Linked DNA regions of Homo sapiens. The protein of the gene in region 1 purifies or fractionates together with the protein of each later gene. This does not show direct contact. Each region holds a gene or a part of one and is shown in the gene's direction. Other genes may lie near its edges. The genes, in order: NDRG3, OAS1, CSTF1 and NPEPL1.

Region 1 (7,147 bases):
GCTTAGAATTTTCAGGGGCCTCTCCCTTGTTAATCTCAAACTTCTGCGTCTTCTGTGGCATTCTCCTCAGTAGTAGTCCCCCTTCATAATAAGTTTTAATGCCAGTGAATTGAAACCATGGGGTTCATGTTCCTTTTTAAAAAAAGCCAGTCAGCCTGAAGAATACCATCTGAGTCCAGAGTGTGTAACAGCTGGAAGAAAGAGAGCAGGCCTATGGCCAACATGCCCTAAAAACGCTTTTCTGTGGACAGTAGATTCAAATCACCTGAGATCTTATTAGAAATGTACGTTCCTTTTTTTTTTTTTTTCCTGGAGACGGACTCTGTCGCCCAGGTTGGAGTGCAGTGGCATGATCTTGGCTCACTGCAACCTCTGCCTCATGAGTTCAAGTGATTCTTCTGTGTCAGCCTCCAGAGTAGCTGGGACTACAGGTGTGTGCCACCACGCCCGGCTAATTTTTGTATTTTTAGTAGAGATGGAGTTTCACCATGCTGACCAGGCTGGTCTGGAACTCCTGACCTCAGGTGATCCCCCCGACCTCGGCCTCCCAAGGTGCTGGGATTACAGGTGTGAGCCACTGCGCGCGGCCAGAAATGCACAATCTCGAACCATACCCCAAACCTATCAAATCAGAATCTCTGGGATAGGAATCCAAGAATCTGAGTTTTAACAAGTCCTTCAGGTAATTCCAGGGCACACTAATGAAGCCATACCCTAGAAATCCTTGCACACGTGAGAATAACCAGCTGTAAATGTTTATGAAGTGAAAAGCAGCATTACCAAACCCAGCTATTAGAGGAAAGTGGCTGACTGAGCAAGCCGGCTGAATCAGTATCAGCTCCTGATGGCAGAGTGCCCTTACTCACGGAGGAAAGATAATGTAGAGTTGAAATGGGACTTGGAAAGCTTGATGCACAGAGAAGTTAGGGTCACACTGTTCGAGGGCTCTGAAAGGAACCTTCTTCAGGTGGTTTTCATGGTTGAGAGTAGTGGTTAACTTCACTATCACCTCAACAGAAAATTCCCACCATGGGCCTGAAAGTCAGGGCTTCAGTCTTATTGATAAATAAGTATGTAATAATTATTTCAGATTTTCATCCAAGGTTATAAATGTTTGTACGTAGGTGCATTGAGATGCAAACTTGCAGTTAAACATTAAAACCTAGAATTCAATCTTGTTCTGTTTGAAAGGACTTGGGGTGTTCAGAGCAATTCTCTTAAGGGTAAGTCCCAGCTGACTTGCATATTTTTCCTTTTCTAGATGGCGGACTGTGGGGGACTGCCCCAGGTAGTTCAGGTAAGGAGAATTTTTTTTAAACACCCATTTAATTCTGCTTCTCTGTCTATGCAAAAATTAATGCCCTCTTGTTTTATCCCCCCAGCCTGGGAAGCTCACCGAGGCCTTCAAGTACTTTTTGCAGGGAATGGGCTACAGTGAGTAGTACACAACTTTCTATCTAGCAACGATTTAGGAATATTGGGAGCCAGTTTCACATCTGGGAGCCCACAATTCTTGAGATATAACCTCTGTGGCAGCTAGCCTTAAGCAAAGTAGAAACTGAAATGTTTATGGAACATTCATTTGTCCGTATTTGTAAGCTAACACTCAGCACTTACTTTCATCAGGCAATATATATTCTTTTTTTTTTTTTTTTTTTTTTGAGACAGAGTCTCACTCTGTTGCCAGGCTGGAGTGCAGTGGTGTGATCTCAGCTCACTGCAACCTCCGCCTCCTGGGTTCAAGCGATTCTCCTGCCTCAGCCTCCCAAGTAGCTGGGACTACAGGCATGTGCCACCACACCCGAATAATTTTTGTATTTTTAGGAGAGACGGAGATTCACCATGTTGGCCAGGATGGTCTTGATCTCTTGACCTCATGATCTGCCTGCCTTGGCCTCCCAAAGTGCTGGGATTACATGCGTGAGCTACCGTGCCCAACCTATATATTCTTAATCTAAGAAGTCATTCTGTTATTAGTGCCAATTTATAGAAGAAGAAACTGAGGCTCAAAGAGACTAAGCACATTGCCAAGGGTAAAAATTCAGCTGCAGGGCCATGATTCAAACCCTGACAGTCTGACTCCAGAGCCCACATTTTGAACCCCTGCAGCTTAGGCTGTCCTAGGTGTGAATCTGAAATTATGATTTGCATTTAAACTCAGCTGGTTAATAACTCCTGACCTAGAGAAATGAAATGGAGACTCCAGGAGAAAAGGGCAGTATCCTTGGTAAAGTCTCCTCCACCCCAGGGGACGAACTTGGAGAGTGTTTTAGAGCAAGTCCAAGGGTGTGTCCATATCATATGCCATTGTCCTGGTCTCTTGTATTGTAAGACCTCTGAGCTTTTTCATGGTCACAGAATTATCTACACTTGCTCCTTTCTTGGAGTTTTTAGAAAAACTCTTTCACCCAGGTACAGAGCTCTTTACCCAGTAGGGTGATTTTTCTCCTGTCTTTGGTATTAGTGTGGATAATGGTCATTGGCGAGCTGTCTGGTCAGCTGCTCTGGGCAGCTGGGCCCTGGGTGCAGCCCTGTACCTGCCAGGCAGACCATGTATGTCTTGTCTCAAGTGGCTGTGTCATCCTTGCCTGTGAGCCGCTACCAACCGAGCCCACACCCACAGCCCTGTGGCTCACTGGGAGGAGCAGGAGGCCCTCTCCTAGTCCATTCTTATCCTTTTCCTATGAAATAGCTGATCTTCCAGCCCACTTCTGATCCAAAGCAAGATGACTGTTTATAGCAGAGGGGAAAACAATTGCCTTTGTCTAGTTGAGGAAAGTAACATTTGAGATGTTATTGAAGTATCTGTCAGCCTCACCTCCTCTCTGGGACCTTAAAATAAAATTTTATCCCTGGCTTAGAGTATTCTGTCAGTGTCTACCAGGCAGCTGAGGTTGCCACTTGGCACTCTGGGGTCACTAACCTGCCTTTTCCTGTGTCCATCCTGCTTCCAGTCCCGTATGTGCAGCTCAGTCACCTGAGCACCGAGTCAGGTACCTTCCTCTGTGCTGGCCCTGCCCCGCCTTCCAGTCTCTCCTGGCTGCACTGGCTGCCTGCAGCATGTCCGCGGTCTTCCTATGCAGTGAGAGCCCGATAGAACGTGGCTCAGTACGCCCCAAGAGATTTAGCCTACAGGTCCAGCCCTGGTCCCCCAGGAGGAGGAAAGGATCTGGTTGTAAGGGGCAGGCCTCCTCTTGTCATCCTAAATCCAGGGTCACAGCAGCAGCTGAAACTTGATAGGCAGGGCCCATCTTCCACCACCACCTACTGATCCTTGAATTAACCTCCAGACACAGGAATCCAAGGGCAGCCTTGGCTCTAAATAGGAGGGTCAGAGCCTGTGCCCAGAGAACTCTGCAGATGATAGCACCTTTTGACCCCAGCATTGAAATGACAGCTAGGGGAGTGGCTGCTGCCCAGGACGATAGGCAGGGAGGCTATGCCAGGTAAGGCCCAGTCCCAGCCAAGCTGGAAGGACCTTAGAGTCAAGCAGTGGCAGAACAGGAGTCTGAGTTAAACACCTGCTTCTCTGTCCCTGGCAACCTGTACCTCATCCCTGTGTTGAGGTCAGCTCCAAGCCAATCTGCCCTCCCCTTCACCTGCACCATCCTACAAATCTCCTCCCTGGTAGCAAGGTAGCCTGTGGACACGGATGGTAGTCTCGTTGTATCGGGCTTGCACTGTGTTTGTGAAACACCTTCATACTTGTGTGTGTGTCTTTCTTTTCTTTTGGTTTAGTCTTGCATGCACTGTAGGTTTTGGTTACCTGTTTGGGTTCCCAAAGCCTCCATTCTGTCACTGTCTGAATGGTGTGGGCATAGTTAAGAGGCTATACTCTGGATTTAGGGTTTCCCCTTGTTCTGCGGTGACTACAATCAGCTGAGATTCCAACCAGATCTAAAGGATTAAAGTGGCCTCACATATCGCCACTCACCTAGAGCAAATGATACAAAATGGGGATGGCTATATCTTGTCCTGGGTGTCATGGTAAATGAGTCGGAAAAGCTAAACATAAAGACTTTGATGAGACTCCTAGGTTAGCTGGGCTTAACCGGGGCTTCATCTTCTAGTCCCCTTGGTTCTCTGTTACAGTACCATCTGCCAGCATGACTCGGCTCGCCCGATCACGAACCCACTCAACCTCGAGTAGCCTCGGCTCTGGAGAAAGTCCCTTCAGCCGGTCTGTCACCAGCAATCAGTCAGATGGAACTCAAGAATCCTGTGAGTCCCCTGATGTCCTGGACAGACACCAGACCATGGAGGTGTCCTGCTAAGCAGATGCTCCTCCCCTGGACCATTGCAAGTCCATCCTTCAAATGACCACTCCATAATATAACATTTCATCCAGTAAACTGGCCTCTACTATCTTTAACTCATGCATGGCCACTGAACCTCTCTCTAGTAGCCTGGATTTATCATTCTCTCTGCCTGCCCACCCCCTTTTTTGTATAGCCCAAGAACCACTTCCATGCCATACTGTAACATTCCAACATCTTTAGCTGATCAGATCTCTCCATATCCTCTCTTGCCAGCTTTTTCCCGTGCTCCCCCAACTATGTATCAGATAAGATTCTTTGATCCCGACTCTGTGTGTGCGAGCACGCGTGTCTGTGTTTGTGTGTGCATAGTTCTGTGGTTTTAGACACGCTTTCTTGTAGTGCTTCTGCAAAAAACAAAAAAGGGACTTATTTTGCATTCTCAATGGTGTTTTTAAGGGAATTAGGCAGAACAGATTTCTAGGTTGGGTAGGCCACTGCATTCTCTTTTGTTTGCAAATTGGTCAACAAAATTTGCAAAGTGATTTCAGGAGAGAGCAGCTTTGAGGAATGTGGAAAATCATAATTGCCGTCTGGACCATTGATTGATTGTGACCAGTAGCAGAAGGGTGCCTGTTACATAGAGAGGCTCCTTCTGTCCAAATGAATTTCTGTATACTCTTCTATAAATAAAAGGGAGGAATATATTCTGCTGGAAGCCCATGAACCATCGCTGAGGTTCTGATACAACATAGAGTTTTTTCCAAGGAGTGAATGTGGTTTAATTACTGGACTCTCTTAGCACAGGAAGGTGGAAACAAAATGCCAGGCCTCTGCTCTGAAGAGCAAAACTGCTGTCGCTGCAGTATCTGATACCAGACATCCACATATCCACAAGAAGTGCCTCTTAGGTCTGTGACAGAGAGTGTGTCTCCATTCCTCAGTTCCCAGAAAGGGGAGAGGTTTGGCCTAAAAAGCATGTAGATGGGGGAGAAATGGGTGGGGGGAGAGGAACAGCCATTAACACAGTATCATGTTTAACAAGTATAGCCTTGATTTCAGTAGATGTAATGGAAGCCAAATTAAATTGATACAGAACCCATTTCTCAGAGTCTTTTTTTTTTTTTGAGACAGAGTCTCGCTGTTACCCAGGCTGGAGTGCAATGGCGCAAACTTGGCTCACTGCAACCTCTGCCCCCTGGGTTCAAGCGATTCTCCTGCCTCAGCCTCCCGAGTAGCTGAGACTACAGGCACCTGCCACCATACCCAGCTAAGTTATGTATTTTTAGTAGAGATGGAGTTTCACCATGTTGGCCAGGCTGGTCTCAAACTCCTGACCTCAGGTGATCCACCTGCCTCAGCCTCCCAAAGTGCTGGGATTACAGGCATGAGTCATTGCTCCCAGCCATTAGAAAGATTGTTAATCCTATGAACTCCCTTTTGTAGGAGAGAAAGGGCCAATCTGTAGGGGTAGCCCTGTCCAGGTAAAGTTGTTTTCAGCCTCATGTCTACTGTTAGGTGAGGGAGTCACAGCCAGACAGAGAGTATTGCTGGAGGGTGAGAGAATTGTGGAGACCAACTACCACATAGCAAGAGCCCAGCTCTTGGGAGCATTGAGATGTAAGCTCAGGGTTACACAGTTCCAAATCTTGGGAAGGGGCTTTTCAGACAGACTGTTTGCTTTCTGCTGAGATAAGGAATGCATCACTCTGCCAGAGTATGACTTTTTACAGATTATTAAATAAAGCTGCATATGTCTCATTGTTACCTGATTGCTGGTGTTATTTCTTTCAAGCCATTCACTGGGGTTCAGGGCAGGACCGAGTTGCTGTATGCTGGTTCTGTGTTGCCATTTTCACATGTGATTGCTTATCCACCAAGCGACACTGTCCATTTATAGGAGGAAATGAAGACTGATGATAAATCATTTGCCCAAGGTCATGCAGCCAATAAGTCCAGCCAGGATCAAATCCCAGGGAATTATGCAGAATTCTATCTGATGTGTCTGTATTTCCCTCAAGCCAAAAATCGTGAGAAGCCTGACAGTGTTGTTTGTGATGGAGGAGGAGAAGCTGAGGTCTTGAGAAGGTGGTCCACGTCACAGCTCCACCACCTGTGTGGGATTGCTGGGTTCCACCTCTCATTTTAATAATCTGCAACCACTTGTCTTCTAAGAGACCAGCTTGTGTTTCTCCAGAAATGGCTATATTTGTACCCATCAAGAATAATTTCAGACCGAGTGCAGTGGCTCACGCCTGTAATCCCAACACTCTGGGAGGCCAAGGTGGGCGGATCACCTGAGGTCAGGAGTTAAAGACCAGCCTGGCCAACATGGTGAAACCCTGTTTCTACTAAAAATACAAAAATTAGCCAGGCATGGTGGTATGTGCCTGTAATCCCAGCTACTTGGAAGGCTGAGGCAGGAGAATCACTTGAACCCGGGAGGTGGAGTTTGCAGTGAGCCAAGATCACACCACTGCACTCTAGCCTGGGCTACAGAGCGAGACTGTCTCAAAAAAAAAAAAAAAAAAAAAAGCCAGGCATGGTGGCTCACGCCTGTAATCCCAGCACTTTGGGAGGCCAAGGCGGGCGGATCACTGGAGGTCAGGAGTTCGAGACCAGCCTGACCAATGTGATAAAACCCTGTCTCTACTAAAAATACAAAAAAAAAAAAAAAAATTAGTCGAGCGTGGTGGCATGCACCTGTAATCCCGCTACTCGGGAGGCTGAGACAGGAGAATCGCTTGAACCCAGGAGGTGGAGATTGCAGTGAGCCAAGATTGCACCATTGCATTCCAGCCTGGGTAACAAGAGTAAAACTCCGTCTCCAGAAAAAAAAAAAAAAAAAAAAAAAAAGAATAATTTCAGAAGACCACCATCTCAGATGAGTT
Region 2 (7,089 bases), on another chromosome or scaffold:
CACATGGCTTAGCTCCCCTATGTAAATGAACACCTGGATACAGGTACAGTGCCTTGGAAATGGAGGAGGTGGGAGGGCTCCCCACTTAGTGAGAATCTCCTGTTGCCCATCATTGTACTGGGCATTTTACTACTGCCATCTGTTTTAAACACCTACCTCCAACCCTGTGAGGCAGGCACTATGCCAATTATTTTACAGGTGAGTAAACTGAGGTTCTGAGAGGTAAGGAGCTTGTCCAACCCTTAACAGAAAATGAGTAAAATAGCTGCAGTTTGAACTGAAATAAGAACAGCAGCAACAACAATGATAGTAATTGCTCCCAGGTATTGAAAGCTTGTTGTAAGACTAACACATGCTAATATAATAGTAAAAATTATTAGCAATATTACTGATATGTATGTTATGTTCTAGTCGCTGTGCTGAGCATTTCATATAACTGGGCTTTTTCTATCCTCACAGCATAGCCTTTGAGATAGGTATGTGGAACTATTCCCATTTTACAGATAAGAATCCTGAGGCTTAGAGAGTTCAAGTGACCTACCCAAGGGCACATCACTGATAAAGGGCAGAGGTGGGATTCAAACCCACATCTGTCAGGTGCAAGTGCAAGGCTCCTTCTCCTCATGCTCACTGCCTGCTGGGGAATAGGGCACTGGGGACATACCCCAGGGAGCCCTTCCTCATGTTCTGAGTCCCAGTTCATCCCATGCTGCTATTTTGCTCTCCCAGGAGCATCTGGACTCCCTAGACAGAGCCCCAGCTTCTCACCTGTCCCTCTCTAAATGCTGCTCTGCAGGCCTGTGATCCTGGACCCGGCGGACCCTACAGGAAACTTGGGTGGTGGAGACCCAAAGGGTTGGAGGCAGCTGGCACAAGAGGCTGAGGCCTGGCTGAATTACCCATGCTTTAAGAATTGGGATGGGTCCCCAGTGAGCTCCTGGATTCTGCTGGTGAGACCTCCTGCTTCCTCCCTGCCATTCATCCCTGCCCCTCTCCATGAAGCTTGAGACATATAGCTGGAGACCATTCTTTCCAAAGAACTTACCTCTTGCCAAAGGCCATTTATATTCATATAGTGACAGGCTGTGCTCCATATTTTACAGTCATTTTGGTCACAATCGAGGGTTTCTGGAATTTTCACATCCCTTGTCCAGAATTCATTCCCCTAAGAGTAATAATAAATAATCTCTAACACCATTTATTGACTGTCTGCTTCGGGCTCAGGTTCTGTCCTAAGCCCTTTAATATGCACTCTCTCATTAAATAGTCACAACAATCCCATGAGGCATTTTTAAAAATTTTTTATTATTTTAGATTCAGAGGGCACATGTGCCATTTGTTACACAGCTATATTGTGTAATGGTGGGGTTTGGGCCTCTATTGATCCTGTCGCCCAAATAGTGAACAGAGTACCCAAAAAGAATTTTTTCAACCTTTGCCTTTCTCCCTTCCTCCTCCCTGTTGGAGTCCCTAGTGTCTATTGTTCCCATCTTTAGCAGATGTTAAGTATTTGATTTTCTGTTTCTGGGTTAATTCACTTCGGATAATGGCCTCCAGCTGCAACCATGATTTCATTCTTTCTTATGGCTGCATAATACTCCATGGTGTAGATATACCACACTTTCTTTATCCAGTTCACACTGATGGGCACTTAAGTTGATTCCATGACTTTGCTATTGTGAATCGTACTGCGATAAACATACGAGTGCCGGTGTCTTTTGATAGAATGATTTCTTTACCTTTGGGTAGATACCGAGTAGTGGGATTGCTGGGTTGAATGGACATTCTACTTTTAGTTATTTGAAAAGTCCCATGAGGCATGTTTTCTATCATTCCCATCTTACAGATGAGACAAAGGCTCAGAGAGGTGAGGTCACTTGCTCAAGGACATCAGCTAACAAGTGGTGGAAATGGAATTCAAGCTCAGTGGACTCTAAAGCCAGTGCTCATGTCACTGTGCTAAACAGCCTGCCTTGTCACATCCCCACCTCTCATCTGACCAATGGGAGACTCTGAGCAGCTGAGTGACTTGGGTTGTCACACAGCTAAACAGGGGCAAAGGACCCAGTCTTGGATCTTTCCACCTCCAAGCAGGAATCTGTCTGATTCCAGGGGATTGATGATGTTGCAGATGGCTAGGAAGCAGACTCCAGGATGGAATTTAGTATGCAGGATGTTCTGGGGGAGAGCCACTGGAACCAGCACTCAGGGAAAGGGGGGAAGAAAGGATAGGAAGGAAGCATGAAAGAGAATAGGGAGAAGTGAACAGGGATGCAGAGCGAATGCCAGTTTCAGCCAACTCCAAGGACAGCCCTGGAGCTGGAATGGCCTTTAGAGCTGCCCCATGGTGACAGAGGTGGCCAGGCTTCTATACCCCTACGTGGATCACTCACTGTGCTTGGGCACCTTGGGAAAGGGCATGGCTTTGAGCAAAAGGCTCTCTGCAGCTGAGGCAACCCCTAAAAGGGCTGACGGCTGAAGTCTGTCTGCTGACCACTGTCCCAGCAGCTGGGGCTTGTTAGTCCTTCCTCAAAGGGGGATCCAGATGGCATGTCACAGTGTCTACCGTAAATGCTCACTGAATCCAGCTGCAATGCAGGAAGACTCCCTGATGTGATCATGTGTCTCACCCTTTCAGGCTGAAAGCAACAGTGCAGACGATGAGACCGACGATCCCAGGAGGTATCAGAAATATGGTTACATTGGAACACATGAGTACCCTCATTTCTCTCATAGACCCAGCACACTCCAGGCAGCATCCACCCCACAGGCAGAAGAGGACTGGACCTGCACCATCCTCTGAATGCCAGTGCATCTTGGGGGAAAGGGCTCCAGTGTTATCTGGACCAGTTCCTTCATTTTCAGGTGGGACTCTTGATCCAGAGAGGACAAAGCTCCTCAGTGAGCTGGTGTATAATCCAGGACAGAACCCAGGTCTCCTGACTCCTGGCCTTCTATGCCCTCTATCCTATCATAGATAACATTCTCCACAGCCTCACTTCATTCCACCTATTCTCTGAAAATATTCCCTGAGAGAGAACAGAGAGATTTAGATAAGAGAATGAAATTCCAGCCTTGACTTTCTTCTGTGCACCTGATGGGAGGGTAATGTCTAATGTATTATCAATAACAATAAAAATAAAGCAAATACCATTTATTGGGTGTTTATTAACTTCAAGGCACAGAGCCAAGAAGTACAGATGCATATCTAGGGGTATTGTGTGTGTATATACATTGATTCAACAAGAAATATTTATTGAGCACTTACTATGTGCCAAGCATAGCTCTGGGCACTGGGAATATAGCAATGCACAAAAGCAGACAGAAATCCCTGTCCTCATGACCCTGCAGAGCCAAGACTTCCAGAATTTTTTAAATAAAAAAATCCCTGTCCTCATGGAGTTGACATTTGTGCAAAACATCTTAATGTTAGATGGTTTTCCTATTACTAATAATTCTGAAATAAGCATCCTTGATTTATCCTTTCTCCATATCTCTGAGAAAAATTATAGAACCTCCCTGTGTGACACAGCAGCCACTAGCCACATGTATCAAATGCTTAAAATGTAGCTAGTCTAAATCTACATGTGCTGTGAGTGCAAGGTATATACTTGGTTTCAAAGACTTAGTACAAATGAAAAGAATGCCAAGTTCTTGCCAACTGATAATTTTTTTAATTGTGTGCTGAAATGACAATTTTTAAATATATTTGAGTTAAATCAAATGAACTTCATCTCTTTCTTTTCCCTTTTTAATTGTGGCTACTAGAAAATGTGAAATCATACATGTGGCTTGTGTTATATTATGTATTTCTATTGGACAGCTCTGTCCTCCAAGGTAAATCACTGGATTAAAGATTCGACTATACTGACTTACATTGCCACATTGTCACACTGTCCTTGGGACCAAGAATCAACATATCATTCATAAGACTCTAAAATATAAAACTCTCATAAATACTCACAAAAGAACCTAGCATGCTCTGATCACCTGAGTTGCTGGTCACTTTTGGTGGCTGGTAAGCAGCCTTTGGTCCGTCCAGATTATATTCTTCCATTTAGTCCCCCCACATCCCTGTGAGATGGGTTTTGTTGTTATTCTCATAATATTAAGTGGAATAACTTGAGGTTCTAAGAGGTTACAGTGCTTGCCCAGGGTCACCCAGCTGGTCAGGGGCAGAGTCTGAACTTGAACCCTAATCCTTCTCTCTCTAAAGCTCATGTTCTTAATCACTGTAGCATGGTCTTAATGTGTCCTCATTCATTGAAAGCTTATGTTTTCCTACTCTGGCGCCATGAGAACCAGAAGCATCAATGTCCAGGGGCAGGGAAAGATGAATGTCCCAGCTCAACCTGAGCACAGATTCACCCTTCCTCGGTCTTTTTGTCCTATTTGTAGACTGGATTAGATGATGCCAGTCTACTGATTCAAATGTGAATCTCTTTCAGAAAAACCCTCACAGATACACCTAGAAATGATGTTTCACCAGCTATCTTGGCACCCTTAGCCCAGTCAACTTGTCACATAAAATCAATCATCACACACTCCATGCTGATAGGCAAGTGTGGACATCCCAATGTAATGGCTTCATTGTATTTTACTGTGTGGAAAATGCACTTGTGTTGCCTTTTGAGAGTGTTTCATTTTATAGCAATGCCACAACCAACAGTAGATTAATGGAATCAGTAATTAGTTGCTTGATCGAAGAGCCACATGGCCACGTGATCAGCCTTCCATCTACAACAGGACCCAGGAGTATACCGGGATTGTTTTTCAAAGGGCATAGACATTTTTGCTGCAAATGACATGGGCTTACTCCAGAGTCCTGGAGGGGTCTGTGTTATAATTCTCTAAATAGATATTGCCATAATCTCTGAATGACACCTTTTCCCATGACTAACACTTTGAACACCATGGGGTCTGCCAGGCTGGTGTGGGCCAAGTAGAGGGGCGACTTGCACCACAGCCTATACCAGCTGCAGAGCCCTTTAGGACTTAATAAAAGGGTGCTAATTTCTGTACTTCCCTGGCTCTGAGATGTAATAGTGGTTTTAATTTACTATCCTGGCCAGGGAGGTGGCAGTTTCAAAGGTATCCCCATGACCTTCCTCACTGTGATAGCCCTCACTTAACCCTCAGGCCAATGTCGGGTAGTGTCTTTTACCAAGCATGTCCTTTTTGAATATACATTCAGGGGACAGGGAAATGATCACCAGGTCGGTCCATAGACACAGTGGGCAAATGACAAGCCTGACTTGGCCAGGGCTCCATTTTTCACTCTTGGCTCCTATATGCCCCTACTCTGATGGGGACAGAATCTGATGACGCTTTTCGTTATCAGTGTTGATCCTCTGCCCAACAGTCTTAGAAATGTTGAGTGACTCCCCTTTTCCAGTGTATCATCCTCTGAATAAATGGCCATAGGTCCTTTGGGGGAAACCATTACTATATATGCTATGGTGTCACAGCATCCTTTCCCAAGGGGACTCTGCCTCCTCTTTGTTAATGGGGTCTAGTCTGAAAACTGGGTTGGTCAGTTCCAAAAATCAGGAAGGGATGATGACTTTTTATTGGAATGGCTCCCCTTAACCCCCTGGTCGTCCGGCCTTGATTTCTTCTAATGGTATAAATTGAGTAGTGCCCTTTCAAGATACTCATCCACTAAGTCACTAAGAGGCCACATTGTGTTAACCAGGTCCCTAACCCTGTATCAGTCACGACCCCTGGCTGCCCCTCCAACCTCACCATTCATTATAGTCATTGCACCCACCTGGCTTCTATTGCTCTGGGAGTCCTGCCTGCCCTATTGCCCTTATCAATCCAAGCTCTGTAACAGCCCCTCTTCCCAGGAGGCCACCACCAGAACACCTCATGATGCAGGTGTCCCTCTCTCCACACATTCCTTATGGCCTCGGGGAATGTTTTGTCCCCTGGGACTCTATTTCCAGACTTACATAGTAAACATATCCACTCCTCTTCACTGTGCCCATTTCCCTTGGCCTCTTAATACCTTCTTCCATCAGCTCCACAGCAATTCTGGAATTTCATACTTTTCTGCATTTCTAGGAGCCATCCTAGGAGTCAGGGAAAACCTCGGCTTCACAAGTAAATGGGACTTCAGTTGTGTGCCAACATGCCTGGCTAATTTTTAAATTTTTTTGTAGAGATGGGGTCTTGCTGTGTTGTCCAGGCTGGTCTTGAACTCCTGGCCTCAAACAATCTTTCCTCCTTGGCCACTCAAAGTGCTGGGATCACAGCTACCATTCCCACACACATTTTCTTATTTTTAAAGGCTGTATGTGCACTGTATACATTAAATGTGTGCACTGTATACATTAACTGTGTGCACTGTATACATTAATTTTCTTTAACGAATTTATCCATTTATAGTTGCTTTGGTTGTTTCCACTTGATTATTGTGAATAGTGCTGCAGTAAACATGGGAATGCAGTTATCTCTTTGATATCCTGATTTCAATTCTTTTGGATACTCAGAAGTGGGATTGCTGGAACATATCGTAGTTCCATTTTTAATTTTTTGAGGAACCTCCATACTGTTTTTCACAGTGGCTCACCAACAGTGTGCAAGAGTTCCCATCCCTCCACATCCTCACACTTGTTATCTTTTGTTCATTCTTTAAAAAATGATAGCCATCCTACCAGGAGTAAGGTGATATTGCATCGTGATTTTGATTTGCACTTCTCTGATAATTAGTGATATTGAGTATATTTTCATAGACCTGTTATCCATTTGTGTGTCTTCTTTGGAGAAAGATCTATTCCTATCCTTAGCCCATTTTTAAATCAAGTTATTAATTTTTTTGCTAGTGAGTGGTAGGAGTTCCTTACATATTGTGGAGATTAACCCTTATTAGATGTATGGTTTGTGAATGTTTTCTTCATTCCATAGATTGTCTTTTCAGCCCGTTGATTGTTTCCTTTGCTATGCAGAAGCTTTTTAGTCTGATGTAGTCCAAGTTGCCTATTTTTGCTTTTGTTGCCTGTGCTTTGCATACGTGGCCACCTGATCTTTGACAAGATTGCCAAGAATACACAATGGGGAAAGGACAGTGTCTTCAACAAATGGTGT
Region 3 (7,865 bases), about 20 Mb from region 1:
GCAGACCCAAGAAATGAATATGGGGACCTGGTTTTGTTAATCAGATTTCAGGAGTCTTAAAGATTTATATTATCTACTATTGATAGAGATTTCGGGAAATCATATTTTGTTGGTCAGAGTCAGCTGGTAAAATATTTCAGCACAGTTTGGTGTCATATCAAAATTTTAAATACACGCTTTTTGACCCACTATATCTACTCTTAGAAATTCAACCTAAAGAGGTAATTGGACAGACATGCACATGCCCATAAAAGGATGTGTGTCCCAACATCATTTGGAGTGGCTGAAAGTTAGAAACAGCATAAATGTCCAATAAGAAGCACTGAGGAAATCTGTTACGCATCCATGGACAACATACACCTTTAAAAATAAGTATGCATGCTAACATGGGCTGAGCACTCGCACTCCAGAGCCTCCTTTGCATTCTCTTATTCTTAATCCTCACAGCCTTATGGGGTAGGTTCTGTAACTACTCCATGGAACAGATGAGAAAATTAAGGCTGAGGAATGTTAAGTAATTTGCCCAGGGTCACATTAGTGTTGAACCCACATCTGACCACACAGACTTTGTGTTTTTATCCACTAAGCTGTATTCTGTCTTTACAGATCTGCACTACATATGCTTGAATATTAATAGTATATGACAAATGCTCTGACTTAAAGAAGTTACAAATGAAGCCAGGGACTGTGGCTCACACCTATTATCCCAGCACTTTGGGAGGCCAAGGTGGGCAGATCATCTGAGGTCAGGAGTTTGAGACCAGCCTGGCCAACATGGTGAAACCCCATCTCTACTAAAAATACAAAAATTAGTTGAGTGTGGTGGCACATGCCTGTAATCCCAGCTACTCAGGAGGCTGAGGCAGGAGAATCTCTTGAACCCAGGAGGCAGAGGTTGCAGTGAGCCGAGATCACACCATTGCACTCCAGCCTGGGCAACAGAGTAAGACTCTATCTCAAAAAAAAAAAAAAAAGAGAGAATTTACAAGTGAGCACATAACACTTAGATATTTCGAAAGAGTATTCACCAAAGTATTGACTGTTACCTCTGATGGGTGCAATTATTAGGCAGTTTTTATTTTCCTTTTTATACTTTATTTGGTACTTTTAAACATAAAATATGTAATTTATAGTCATAAAAAGGCTTCCTTTTGGAAAGTAGATATTCATATACTTTGTCTCAGTAATTCTGTCTCTAGGAATTTACTCCTAAGGAAATAAAGCTTTCTGTACAAAGGATGTTCATTACAACATTACTTATAATTGATATAAACTAAATGTCAGGAAGTAAAAGAATTGTTAAACAGGCCGGGCATGGTGGCTCACACCTGTAATCCCAGCACTTTGGGAGGCCGAAGCAGGTGGATCACAAGGTCAGGAGATAAAGACCATCCTGGCCAACCTGGTGAAACCCTGTCTTTACTAAAAATACAAAAATTGGCTGGGTGTGGTGGTGTCCACCTGTAGTCCCAGCTACTTGGGAGGCTGAGGCGGGAGAATCACTCGAACCCAGGAGGCGGAGGTTGCAGTGAGCCGAGATCACGCCACTGCACTCCAGCCTGGCGACAGAGTGAGACTCTGTCTAAAAAAAAAAAAAAAAGATCACACACAAAAGAATTGTTAAATAAGTAATGGGGCTTCTAAACATGAGGCACTTTGCATCTAGTAAAAAACATGGAAAAATGTACTCAGCATAAAGTTGGTTAAAACTATAATAGAAAAATATAGTGGCAACAATTTTATATGTATTTTTAAAATGTGTTTTTTTATGCCTCAAAGTACATTAGGACAGTAACAGTATTGCTTCAGGTGATCTGGTGATCTCCTTTTTTTTTTTCCTGATGCAGTCTTGCTCTTGCTCTGTTGCCTGTTGCCCAGACTGGTCTTGAACTCCTGGGCTCAAGCAGCCCTCCTTCCTCAGCCTCCCAAAGTACTGGGATTACAGACGTGAGCCACTGTGCCTGGTTTGATTTTCTTTTTTGTACTTTTTTAGAGTTTCTGAAAGTGTACAAGGTGTATCACTGCAACAGGTTTAAAATGCTTTTACATTGAATGCTAGAACGTTCTGAGGGTCTAAGATGTGGACTTAGAAAGCTATCCCTCTTGCTCTCTGTGGCAGGCGCGGGTTTAAGTGGACGCCAGGTGCACCGGACACAGGCTGTGTTTAACCACACCGAGGACTATGTGTTGCTGCCCGACGAGAGGACGATCAGTCTTTGCTGCTGGGACTCGAGGACAGCCGAGCGGAGAAACCTGCTGTCGTTGGGGCACAACAATATTGTACGCTGCATAGTGCACTCCCCCACCAACCCCGGGTTCATGACGTGCAGCGATGACTTCAGAGCGCGGTTTTGGTACCGGAGATCGACCACTGACTGAGCCACCCTCTCCGTAGGGTTCTTTCTCGAGGACTCTACCCTCCTCCCCCACGTCCTGTCTCAGCTGCAGTCGTAAGTCCGTGCACCATCCTTGACGTTTTGCTGCCACCTCTGTCCACATTCTTCTTGGATTTGTATAAAAGAATCTTTTTTTACCTTGATGTAGAATCATGGTGGAAAAAGTTGGAAACACAGATCTGTGCAGTTCTACATTCACTGATTATTACAGTGTGATTTTCATCGGTTTTGTAAGTACAGGACTTGCCGTTTCTTTTGATCTCTTGATTGAAGGAGGATAGGGCATTAAAGTGCTTTTGACATGAGGAATTTTCATTTGGTTCTTCTGTCAACTTTCTTGCTTATTCTGCTGAACCCTCTGTGTATTTCCCTTCCAGGTATATTTGAACAGATAAGCAGGCATGCAGCTCTGAGACTCCTGAGTTTTATGCCATTATCAAAAGCATTTTCAAGAATCCCTCAATTCTATCCTGAAATGATGTTATTCTGATAATAAAGCTCAGATCTGCAACTTTATTGTTATATATTTTTCACTTCTGTAAAATTAATGGCCAGTTTTTCCTGACAATTTATAGGAACAGTATCTTTCAACATACTCCCTACATTATCCTTCAATATCTGCAATACTTGTCTTTAGTAACTGTATTTCTGGTAAGATTATGATTTCATGAGAAACAATTGAAAATATATCCGATCTAATTAAATTAGGTCAGCCTGCTATTGCTCTCAGGTGTTGCCTGTCTTCACGAATGATTAGTATCGATTGACCTCTTTCTTAGGTGGTTTTAAGTCTTCAGTTCTCGTCAGCATGAACTAACTTCTCATCATGGAGGCACATAGTAACTGCATTCTCAGAAGATTTATGCAGTTAACCAATTGATACAAGTTTTCTTTTTCTTGAATTTTTTTTTTTTTAATTGAGGCACAGTCTTGCTCTGTCACCCAGGTTGGAGTGCAGTGGCGTGATCTCAGCTCACTGCAAGCTCCGCCTCCTGGTTTCACACCATTTTCCTGCCTCAGCCTCCCAAGTAGCTGGGACTACAGGCACCCACCACCACGCCCGGCTAATTTTTTTTTTTTTTTTTTTTTTTTTTGTATTTTTAGTAGAGCCAGGGTTTCACCATGTTAGCCAGGATGGTCTCTATCTCCTGACCTCGTGATCCGCCTGCCTCAGCCTCCCAAAGTTTTGGGATTACAGGCGTGAGCCACCGCGCCCAGCCTTCCTGAAGCTTTTTAGAACATGACAGTACTTCTCTGGATTCAGCACTAGCAGAGTCAGAGAACTCTGAACTCCCCTTGTACAAACATAAACTTTGCTTTATATTTATCCCAAAAAACAAATACCTTATGATCTGCATAGGAGTACCTAGAAATATAATCTGGGATCATTTGATAAAAATAGTAAATAGATTGAAGTAAAAGTCATTGCTTTATATTATAGGAAGTTTTGTTTTGTTTTGTTTTGTTTGTTTTGTTTTTGAGACGGAGTTTCGCTCTTGTCCCCCAGGCTTTAGTGCAATGGCGCGATCTCGGCTCACCGCAGCCTCCGCCACCTGGGTTCAAACGATTCTCCTGCCTCAGGCTCCCGAGTAACTAGGATTACAGGCGTGCGCCACCATGCCCGGCTAATTTTGTATTTTTTTTAGTAGAGACGGGGTTTCTCCATGTTGGTCAGGCTGGTCTCGAACTCCCAACCTCAGGTAATCCGCCCGCCTCAGCCTCCCAAAGTGCTAGGATTACAGGCGTGAGCCACCACGCGCGGCCCCATCATACGAAGTTACTGAAGTTATTGCGTAAACATTCTGTTTTAGTCATCCTTGAGGATCGTTTTAACTCCTTGATCTGTAAAACTGTCTTAAGCATCTTAACATGTTACATCACAGGGTTTTAGCTCAGATTTCCAAAGAGCCATATTTTTTGATGCATATTTCCAGTTGAATTCCAGTGTGAATTTCCAGTTGTACTTTGCATTCTGATTCTTTGATATTTGAACTTGGCCATCTGTGGGTGCTACTCTCGTAAGACTAAAAGGCACCTACTAAATACGAACAAGGATAACCAGTTCTACCAAAAACATTACCAACCAAACCTCCCCTGTTCTTTTTTCAGACTTTCCTTTTGCTTTCAACCTCTTAAACTGTAAAGGAGAGATTTAATGTTTCCCTATTATTCTGCTTTGACTCACATACTAAAATGACCACATGGCACTCCATTGAATCTTTTCAGTTGTTCACGAATTAAAATAATGCCCATGTTTTACAGTTTTTCGAGTAGTCTCAGCAATGGATCTGTAGTTTCAGGACCTGTTTTTAAAAGATCAAGATACTTTTATGTGTTTCAGAAGTAGCTGTTTTTTCATTTTTTGTGGGTTTGTTTTTTTTGTGTTTGTTTGGTTGGTTGGTTTTTGGTTTTTTTGCTTTTTAAAGGTCACAGTGTTGTGAGCCTGGTGTAAATGCCAGGAATATTATATGGACTTAGTATCTGCATCTCGTTAATTGTACCACACAACACTCTGCCATTCAAATAATGAATATCTGGTCAGGATACGAACTTATACCCTCTGTGTGTTTTTTTTTTTTAAGATACGTGATTTCTGAAATAAACTTTATATACAATGATAAGCTAGTTTATTTTTTTTGGAACTTACTTTGAACATTTCCCACATTTGAACATCTGTTCTCAAACAGCAGTTATGACTTTGGTACTGTTCACCCTTTCTTTAGTGCTTTGTTCCAGAAGTCAGGTTTTTATAGCTGGATCACCTTTAGCTCTTTATCTTTGCTCCTCTGCTCTCTATGAATTTTTCTTTTTTTGAAACGAATTCTCACCCTGCCGCCCAGGCTGGAGTGCAATGGCGCGATCTCGGTTCACCGCAACCTCCGCCTCCCAGGTTCAAGCGATTCTCCTGCCTTAGCCCCCTGAGTAGCTGAGATTACAGGCGCGTGCCACCATGCCTGGCTAATTTTTTCTATCTTTAGGAGAGACAGGGTTTCGCCATGTTGGCCAGGCTGGTCTTGAACTCCTGACCTTCTGATCTGCCCACCTTGGCCTCCCAAAGTGCTGGGATTACAGACGTGAGCCACCGTGCCCGGCCGCTCTCTGTGAAGTTAAAGAACTTGAGTATAATTCAGTTTTTTGGCTTATTCAGAGAACGCTATCTTTGCTTACACTTTGGTTTTCCTTAGGAAGAGCAATGTGAGAGAGTCCAGTCTCAGCTCTGTTACTGACTTGGTAAGTAATAGGGCAAGTCATTTTTCTGGGATACAGCTTCCTTTTCTGCGATTAAAGGGCTTAATGAAAAAAATCTCCAGCATGCACTTCAACCTGTAAAGCTCTTTGTTTTCATGCCTGATGATACAAACAGACTTCAGGGAGGGAGGAAGCCATTGTTCCTAAGCGGGAGACATCTGTTTCTAAAAAGGTAACAAACCAGATATTTCCAGAGCCCTTTCAATTCAAACCTGGATAGAACTTTTTTTAAATCTCTAATAGTTAGCTGAGACAGCAAGAAAGAAGGAATTCCTGAGGGGCAGAACAAAGCACAAATCCAGAGGATTCGCAGTGCTGGAGCACTGAGTAGGTCAGTTCCTGTAACCTACTCATCTCTGAGCAGAAGTCAAAGCTCTGAGTCTTCATGGAGGAGGAACTTTGGTCAAGACCCAGAAAGCCTGGAACCCCAAAGGTGCCCCTTCAGTAAAAGGATGAACTTGACAAAAACCTGCCTCAGAGAAAGACGAGAAATCTGCCTGCTTGGTGCTGGCTCAGGGGTTTTCGGAGAGAGGGTGTCTGGTGTTGGCACAAGGGAGGGTCTCCTGAGAATTCGGTCCACGCACTGTTCCTCATGCAGGTTTGGAACAATTTACGCTACCTGTACTGCTCAGAGAAAATCAAATGGGGATCTTAAAGCAGTCTCCAACTGATGGTGGCCACAAGTATCTGGCAGAGGCCAGCACGAATTTTCTGTGCAAGAACACGTCTTAACCCCAGTCCTCCCTCTATCCCAGATAAACCTCTGAGGATCATGAACTCACAGTCAGGTACGTGAGGAAACAAGCCACCCTGATAAGAATCAGCAAAAATAACATAATCAGACTTGCAAGGACCTAGTGGAATTACCAGACACAGATTAAATTCAGAGAACTAAAACAGTAACTAAAATGGGACCAAGGGGCGGGCGTGGTGGCTCACGCCTGGAATTCCACACTTTGGAAGGCCGAGGCTGTGAGATGGCTTGAGGTCAGGAGTTCGAGACCAGCCTGGGCAATAGGGCAAAACCTCATCTCTACCAAAAATACAAAAATATTAGCCGGGTGTAGTGGCGCACACTTGTAGTCCCAGCTACTCAGGAAGCTGAGGCATGAGAATCGCTTGAGCCAGGGAGATGGAGGTTGCAGTGAGCCAGGATCAAGCCACTGCACTGCAGCTTGGGCAACAGAGCGAGCCTCTGTATCAAAATAAAAATGGGACCAAGGATTAAAAAACTTGCACAAGGCCAGGCGCCGTGGCTCACACCTGTAATCTCAGAACTTTGGGAGGCTGAGACCGGCGGATCACCTGAGGCCAGGAGTTCAAGACCAGCCTGACCAACATGGAGAAACCCCATCTCTACTAAAAATACAAAAACATTAGCCGGGTGTGGTGGCACATGCCTGTAATCCCAGCTACTCAGGAGGCTGAGGCAGGAGCATCGCTTGAACCCGGGAGGCAGAGGTTGCGATGAGCCGAGATCGCACCATTGCACTTCAGCCTGGGCAACAAGAGCGAGACTCCATCTAAAAAAAAAAAAAAAAAAACTTGCACAAGGGACTGGGCAGGTTTGAATTAAAGAATAAGACTTGTGGAAAACCTCCTATTGGAATGTTTCTCTAGTTTTCATCGTGAATTGCTTTGGCCTTTCCCTGGAGCTCTTAACTGTTGGCCTTCCTGCTCCCTGACTGGATATTTGACTCTATGAAGCCTCTTTCACAGGCGTCTTTTGGCCAAGCAACTCCTCGCCACTCTGTCTGCTCCCCAGTAACGACCGCTTGCCTGGGGCATCATTTTCTCTCTGGCTTTTTCTTGCTCTCCTGCCGGCATTCAGCCTTTCCCTCCAGCTTCCTGTCCCCACTCTGTCCCCAGAGCATTTCCTTTGCATCCTTGTTTTCAATTCTTGCCCTAATTCCTTTTCCCTCCCAACCTGGGGGTCAAAACTTGGGTGATAAAACTAATCACTAATAACTAGAGTGGCTGCAGATTCCCCAGCCCTCCCAGTATTATCCCTGCAGCAGAATATTTGGTGAATTTGTGGGCAATTCATGAAATTCTTTTTTTTCTTTTTTCTTTAAGACAGTCTCACTCTCGCCCAGGCTGGAGTGCAGCGGTGCGATCTCCACTCTACTGCAGCCTCCACCTCCCGGGTTCAAATGATTCTTGTGCCTCAGCCTCCCAAGTAGCTGGGATTATAGGCATGCACCACCACGCTCGGCCAAT
Region 4 (7,147 bases), about 22 Mb from region 1:
GCTCAAATGTATACCATTGGCAATAAATAATGTCAGCTGTTTCTGGAAGTAAGAGGCTCAGTTTGTTCCTTTTCTGGGAAATATCTGCCAGATACCTAAATCCAATTAAATGCCATTTGTCTGTCAGTTTTTCTTTCAAGTAAAGATGGTGTCGTGGCCAGAGTGGCTCATGGAGCTCAGAACTCCCCCAGCAATCACAGCTGAGCTTCTGCTCTGACCGACCACTGCCCGTCAGCAACAGCAGGAGTACATTATGAGTCACACGGAATATGGAAAATGTATTGTACCCAAGGGTTGAGAGTTTTAAAAATTAATTTTACTGCTTCAGCAAGGAAATTCTAACGTGAAATTGGCATTGGTTCATTTTCCCAGAGGGCACGGAAACGAATACAGTGGCTCCCGGACCTCTTTGGGACTGTGGCCTGATACTCCAGCACAGGGGGTGTAAGTGTCAGCCCCGTGAAAAAGGCAGAGACCGTCTTAAATCACTGCGAAAATGGTTTCTTCTATAAAAACAGAAACAACATATGGGGGCTGGTGAAACTTTGCACAATCAATCAGTTGAGCTGTATTTGCAAGCCCAGTCCTGGCTCCACCTGCAATTGGGAAGGAGCTGGCAGCTGTGACGGGGGAGACATGGTGTACAGTGAGCAGCCGTTTCCAGGCATTGCTGTGTGACCCATTTTGCACATGGTTTGATTCCAGATCGGAGGCCCTGTTTTTCCATTTAAACAATCCTGTGCTTTCTCAAACAGATTAGCTCAGAAGAGATGGCTTATTTTCAGTAGTACAAGATGGGTCATTTTCACTCAATTATAAAAGCAGCTCAATTTACATCTAAAAATACTTTGCACTAAAATTCAAAGCTTGTGTAATAAGATAAGGGTTCAAAAATGATTCAGTAAATTTCATACCCAAACCTTTACCTCTGAGGACCTGCTGTTAATTTAAAATATGAACTTGTGAATTTGATTTGGGAACCTGTAAAATGTAAAAATGTGTAACACTGTCAACCAGCGTATAGGAAACAGTGTGGACACTGCAGGAGAAGGGTGGCCCCTCTTTAGACCCAGGTTAACCAGGAGGTGTGAACTATTAACCAGGAGGTGTGAACTAGCAGGAGGGCAGAGGTGGCCCCTTCTTCTGGCGATAGACCTGGCAGTGACATGAAGGAGCGACAGGTGTCCTCACTGCTGGTGGTGTCAGTGGGGGTGGATGTGACTGATTTTGGCGAAGAGTTCACATCAACCCTCACCATCATTCAAGGTTGTGATGAGGGGCAGAGAATGCTGAGCCTAAGTCTCGTTAGGTGGTAAAGCCCTCTAAGTGCCAGGGAGAGGAAGCTAGGCCCTGTTCTGGGGGGCGACAGGTGGCCAGGGCAGGTTTGCATTGCGGCAGCAGCCCCTCAGGCTTCCTCCCTGCCATAAGCACACTAGGAATCTGCAATGGGTGCAGGAAGCACGCAAGCCCACCCAGGTCCCTGAGGTGCTGGCCAGGGACCTCCAGCAAGCCCCAGAGGCTCCCTGGACCTCAGCTTCCTTCTCACGCTGTGCGGAGGAGTGGAGAGAGTGGCCCTGCAGACAGACCCCCAGGCGGCGTGGCAGCCCGGGACTGAGGTCAGGGTGCCCGGCGTCAAAGCACGGGGTCCCTGTTTCAATGTCAGAGCCCGGCCACAGCGAATTCTGCAGCTCCGGGCATCTCCTCGGGTTCCCCCTCCGTGCAGTTACTGTTTGATAACCCCAAAGTTCTGTCAAAACAAAAGGGAGCCTCACCATCTATGGCCATGACTCCCTGTTGCTTCTGGAGAACACCCCACTTGGCCAATATGAGGTTCATGAGTTCTGTGGGTGCCCAGGAGGCCTGGTGTGGGGGCTGCCCAGGCCTGAGAGCTGGGGAAGGTGGGGCTAGCGTGGGGCCGGGTGGGGGTGGGGGGCTTCCGCTGCCAGGCCTGGACCTCACAGCTCACCTTTGTCCTGGTCCCTTTGTACCACCCGCAGACTACCATGCCGGGGATGAAGCGAGACTGCGGGGGTGCTGCGGCCGTCCTGGGGGCCTTCAGAGCCGCAATCAAGCAGGTGAGTGGGCCCTGCCCGCCCTCTGCAGGGGCATCCTGGGTGTGCCTCGTGGGTGCTCCCCTCTCCCCTGTCCGTCCCGCCACAGGCCCCACCAGGGTCCTACCCGAGTCTCCCCAGCGGATGCTTGTCCCCCCTCTGCCCCCAGGCTCTTCTGGGGCCCCCAGAGCTTCCCGCCTTCATCAGAGCTGCTCTGGGAGGCCCCGAGGGCAAGGTGCAGCCATGTTCTCTGCTCAGGGCCTGCCTTGGCTCCAGAGCCCCATGAGCGGTTGGCTCAATGAGGAAGCCTGGCCTAGACCCTCATGGCATGTGGCAGGCAGAAGCTCATGGCAGGGGCACACGTTGTTCTGCGTACCCCTCCCGCAACCCTTCTTTGCAGCAGAGCTGCCTCTGGTGACTGGTCTCACCAAGTCACCACCTCCAACCCCCAGGCCTGGCCAGGCCCCCTTCCTCTCTTGCGTGGGCAGGTGCCCCAATGCTTAGCCCTTGCTCAGTGGCAGTAGTCACTCGGGGGGCGTGGGGGGGGTGGGGGGTGACCTTGAGTGACCTTCCCATGGAGCCCAGATGTCCCTGGGGCCATAAAAAGTGCTTATTAAACAAATGAAGAGGCCAGCTCATGCTGGTAATCCCAGAACTTTGGGAGGCGGAGGCAGGAGGATGGCTTGAAAGCCAGAAATTCAAGACTACCCATAGCAACCTTGCAAGACCCCGTTTCTATAAAAAAAAATTTAAAAACTAGCCAGGCGTGGTGGCGCGCACCTGTAGTCTCAGCTACTTGGGAGGCTGAGGTGGCGGAGGATCGATTGAGCCCGGGAGGTTGAGGCTGCAGTGAGCTAAGATCCCACTGCTGCACTGCAGCCTGGGAGATAGAGCGAGACCCTGTCTAAAGAAACAGGCCAATGAGGAGTGTGCATTGACTCATCAGCCGAGGTTTTACCTTCCTAGCCTACCTTTCTCAGGCCAGCAACCCAGTTCCTTGGGGTAAACTTGAAATGGAAAAACAAAAAGGCCTTGGCAAGTAGTTTCCAATCTGGAGGGTCCTGCTCCTGGCCGTGAGGGAGGAGGAGGAATCCCAGGAGGAAGGAGCTCCTTCTGCCGGGGCTTCCCAGCTGGCCGTGCACATTCCAGACTGTGTGACGGGCTTCTGCTACCAGGCCCAGCCGGTGGGGACACGGAGGTGCGGGGCTGAGGCGGCCTGGGCAGGAGGGGCTGGCAGGCCCTCACCTGTGCTCTGCACGGGTTTGGAAACGGCCTCTTAGGGCTCACGGCTGTTTCTCTCGTGCTGAGCACACAGCTGGGGCTGTACGCAGCCTGCAAGCCCCATGCCTCCATGAGCACCTGCCGTGGCCCGTCCACTGCAGAGCCTGTCGGAAGAGGCTGGAGGAGGAGCATGTGTCCTCTGTGCGCTACTCCTTCACTGGTTATAAACTACCAAGGGACACGGCTGGCACTCAAGGAGGGTCTTGACTGCCCCAGCATCATAGGCCACGGGGCAGGGTGGCTCTGGGCTCCCACTACCTGGCCCTCCTCCTTGCCTCTGCCCAGGCCCCGTGGCTTTGGCAGATGGGCTCACCAGAAGAATGCTGAGGCGGACGGGCCCAGCTGTGCGGTGCTCGCTGGGCAGCTCTCTCTGAAGGGAGCAGTTGCTGCTCTGGGGTGGCACGGGGGCAGGGGTGGGCAAGTGGTTCTGGAGGAGCCGTGTGGCCAGCCCTCTGTGGCCGTCTTTGCCGTTCACCCCTGGTTACTCCTCCAACAGAGGGTCTGTCCTGCCTCTGGGACAGGCTGGCTGGGAATGCCCCAGCAGGAAGACTCTTCTGAGCTTGAATTCCCTGTTCACAGGAAGCCACTTGACAAATGATCACAGATTCATCAGGCAGCAGCCGTGAGTGTTCTCAGCACTCCTCCACCTCTAGAGGTGCTGCGGCCTCTAGAGGTGGAGGAGCACCTCTAGATTTGAGGGGTGCTGAGGACACCCCACCCCCACTCTGGACAAAGATCCCCCTCCCACAAGAGCTCCAGCCTGGAGGCTCCACTGTGAACGCGAATGTCCTGCTTGGCCTTCACATATCCTTGTTGGCCTCTTAGAAAGGAATACGCCTCTGTCTGAGCCACAGAATCAATCCTCAGGGTAATGCATTTACCCAGAGAATAAAATCAGCATCCACGTGTCCACACTGGTAGGAATAGATCACTGAAGGAATAAATGAATGGGGGAGAACCGTTTCTCACACTGAATCCCAGTTTCAGGCTGCAGAGGTAGTGATGGAAACAGGAAGTCGTCACCCCACAGCCAGGCTTCATTCCAGGTGAGAGTGGCCCACAGTGCTGGAACTGGAGCATGAGAGTGGGATGGGAAGAGGACAGTCAAATGCTCTCAGAGTGCCTCTCGCAGCTTTATAGTGGTGACACTCACAACCCAGCCTAACCAGGTGTCCCAGGGCATGTCACCAGGGCAGGGACAGAGCCACCTGACATGCCTCCAGAGGCAGTGTACAGGGAAGGACAGAGCATTTCTGCAGGATTCCCACCAAAAATGCATGGCCTGCCTGTAGTCACAAGGACACGTCAGACAAACCCAGCACTGAAAGTGCCAAGGCCACAAAAGACAAAGCCAGACTATGCAGTCGCCCAGATTAAGGAGGGCAAGCAGGCCAGGCTTGATGTGTGGTCTGATCTGATCTGGACGTCTGAGGAGCACATGGAATCTGGATGGTCCCGAGAGGTGATGGTCCTGTGTTGGTGATTACTACCCCCTGCTGCCCATTGTCCCATGGCTGGACAAGATGCTGACATTGGCAGAATCTGGGTGAAGGGTGTTGAGGAATTGTTTGTGGCTTTTTTTTTTTTTTTTTTTTCCCCGAGATGGTGTCTTGCTCTGTTGCCCAGGCTGGTGTGCAGTGGTGCGATCTCGGCTCACTGCAACGCCTCCCAGGTTTAAGTGATTCTCCTGCCTCAGCCTCCAGAGTAGCTGAGATTACAGGCATGTGCCACCACCCTTGGCTAATTTTTGTATTTTTAGTAGAGACAGGGTTTCACCTTGTTGGCCAGGCTGGTCTTGAACTCCTGACCTCAAGTGATCCGCCCACCTCAGCCTCCCAAAGTGCTGGGATTCTGGCATGGGCCACTGCTCCTGGCTGTTTGTGACTATTTCTGCAATTTTTTTGTAAGTTTGAAATTATTTCACAGTGAAATGTTTTGAACTTTTTAGAAAGAGGATGTACCATTCAAAGATGGAAGGGTACGCCAGGAGCTCGGTGGCCCTGGGCTCTGGGGGTGTTAGCGACCCTCCAAGCCTGGCACCAAAAAAAAAAGCCCCTGACCCACTTACCAACCCAAAACCCTTGGCCGCCCTGGGGGACCAGGCCCAAGCCCTGGCGTAGCACTGGAGACCCTTCCCACGCTGTCGCTGAAGCACTCACAGTCCAGCCCCATCTTTGGCCACCCTCTTCTGTTAGACCAGCAAGTCCCAACTGTGCCAGGTAACACCCAGGAAGTGTGTGAACATTGACAGCTCCAGGGCTCACCTCCAGCTCTGCTGAGTCTTGGATTTTTTCAGCCGCTCCTGGTGATTGGAGAACACCTCCAGACTGGCCGTGAGGGCCGCAAGGGCAGGGCCGTGCCTGTGCTGTCTCTGTCTCACGTCTTCCAGCCGTGCAGACCTCAGCACTGTTTGCCCCAGGACTGCAGCTCGCTCGTCTTCTAAGCCAGCACTTCTCAAGTGGGGTCCCCATGTTGTTAGTAATATGGGTTCTCAGCTCTGCCCCAGACCTGCTGGATCAGAAATTAGGGGCAGGGCCCAGCCTTCAGCGGGTAGCAGCCCTCCCTGGGAGGCTGAAAGCATCCATTTGGGAATCCTCCTCCTCCCCGCTCCTCCCTCCTCCCCCCCCGCCTCCTCTCCTCCTCCTCCTCCCCCCCTCCTCCCCCTCTCCTCCTCCTCCCCACGCCCCAGCAGGCTACAGATCCAGAACTCTGCTTTCTAGGAGGACTTCAGGGCTCCCCTCCTTTGTTGGTGGAGCTCATCTCTGTGGCGTCCATGGCCTGGAGCCCCATGGCCTCATCCTGTGACCTCAGGGTCATGCTGTCATTTATTCGTTGTTCCTAAACACCCACTTCTCCCTGGAATGACCACAGGAGGCCTCAGCACAGGGACAGGCCGTGGTCACTGTACACACAGATGGAATGTCAGTGCTGGGGTATCTGGGGAGGAGCTCTGAGAGGAGGAGGCTGAGGGTCCTGAAGCCCCTGCCCCGTGTCCCTGACACAGGCTGGGCTGCGAGAGTGGGAGCGGGGGACTTGGGGCCCTTGTGGAGCTGACAGGTGGCTCCGATATCATCACCCTGAGGCTGGTGGGGTTCTTTCCCCTGTGCTGCGTGGGGGTGCGGGGCCATCTGTGAGGCTCAAGGACTGAGCGGGGACCCAGGGAGGTCTCAGGGACTCGCAGCTGCCATGCCCAGCACCACTGCTGCAGCTCCTGCCACTGGCCACTCCTTGCCCTGCTGGCTGCCCCTGCCCCACCATCCCAAGTGTTTGCCTTTGGTGAGGGCTCTGCACCCGTGGTGGAAGAGTCGGCTGTTCCAGGAGATGAGAAAGACGCTGGATCCTATAGAGCTGTGTGTCCGCGCTCTCGAGGCATGCTCCATGCTAGGAGGATGTATTCTGGTTAAAGATTCGTCTGCGGGAGCAGAGGAAGGGCAGGGACAGGGGTCTGGGAGCTCTACTCCATTTGACATTGCTGCCCGGGTGTGGCCCGCTTCGGGGTCAGGGGGCACCCTTAGAACCTGTGCAGGGCAGGAACTGCCACCATCTGTTGGCCACACATTTCTCAGTGAACAAATGACTTTTGGCATCAGAAAGCCATAACTTCACACCTAAACTTCCACGAGGCTGAGCTCTTCCTGCCCCTCTGTGTGTGTACGTGTGTGTGTGTGTGTATTGAGGGGACGCGGCTGCTGGCCACCTTCTGTCGGCACAGGTTGGCGAGGCTTCATGACTGCCCAGCCCATGCAGTCCAAGAGTCCCACAGCCCAGCCCATGCCCAGGCTCATCCACTGCGGCGGGTGGCCTCTGCCAGGGGA

What was found.
Region 2: the proteins of NDRG3 (region 1) and OAS1 purify together in Homo sapiens (co-immunoprecipitation; one large-scale study listed by IntAct). This does not show direct contact.
Region 3: the proteins of NDRG3 (region 1) and CSTF1 fractionate together in Homo sapiens (co-fractionation; one large-scale study listed by BioGRID). This does not show direct contact.
Region 4: the proteins of NDRG3 (region 1) and NPEPL1 fractionate together in Homo sapiens (co-fractionation; one large-scale study listed by BioGRID). This does not show direct contact.

What each region holds. Positions count from the first base shown.
Region 1 is NC_000020.11:36,650,647-36,657,793, reverse strand, and holds the end of NDRG3 (protein NDRG3), read left to right. Parts: intron 1-1,261; coding exon 1,262-1,297; intron 1,298-1,382; coding exon 1,383-1,434; intron 1,435-2,954; coding exon of another isoform or gene 2,955-2,993; intron 2,994-4,092; coding exon 4,093-4,274; 3' UTR 4,275-6,023; downstream 6,024-7,147.
Region 2 is NC_000012.12:112,916,751-112,923,839, forward strand, and holds the end of OAS1 (2'-5'-oligoadenylate synthase 1), read left to right. Parts: intron 1-796; coding exon 797-950; coding exon of another isoform or gene 951-1,007; exon of another isoform or gene 1,008-1,846; coding exon of another isoform or gene 1,847-1,963; exon of another isoform or gene 1,964-2,638; coding exon 2,639-2,803; coding exon of another isoform or gene 2,804-2,943; 3' UTR 2,944-3,153; downstream 3,154-7,089.
Region 3 is NC_000020.11:56,401,349-56,409,213, forward strand, and holds the end of CSTF1 (cleavage stimulation factor subunit 1), read left to right. Parts: intron 1-2,119; coding exon 2,120-2,379; 3' UTR 2,380-5,014; downstream 5,015-7,865. UniProt on the Homo sapiens protein: One of the multiple factors required for polyadenylation and 3'-end cleavage of mammalian pre-mRNAs. May be responsible for the interaction of CSTF with other factors to form a stable complex on the pre-mRNA.
Region 4 is NC_000020.11:58,705,126-58,712,272, forward strand, and holds part of NPEPL1 (probable aminopeptidase NPEPL1), read left to right. Parts: intron 1-372; exon of another isoform or gene 373-444; intron 445-1,997; coding exon 1,998-2,075; intron 2,076-7,147. UniProt on the Homo sapiens protein: Probably catalyzes the removal of unsubstituted N-terminal amino acids from various peptides.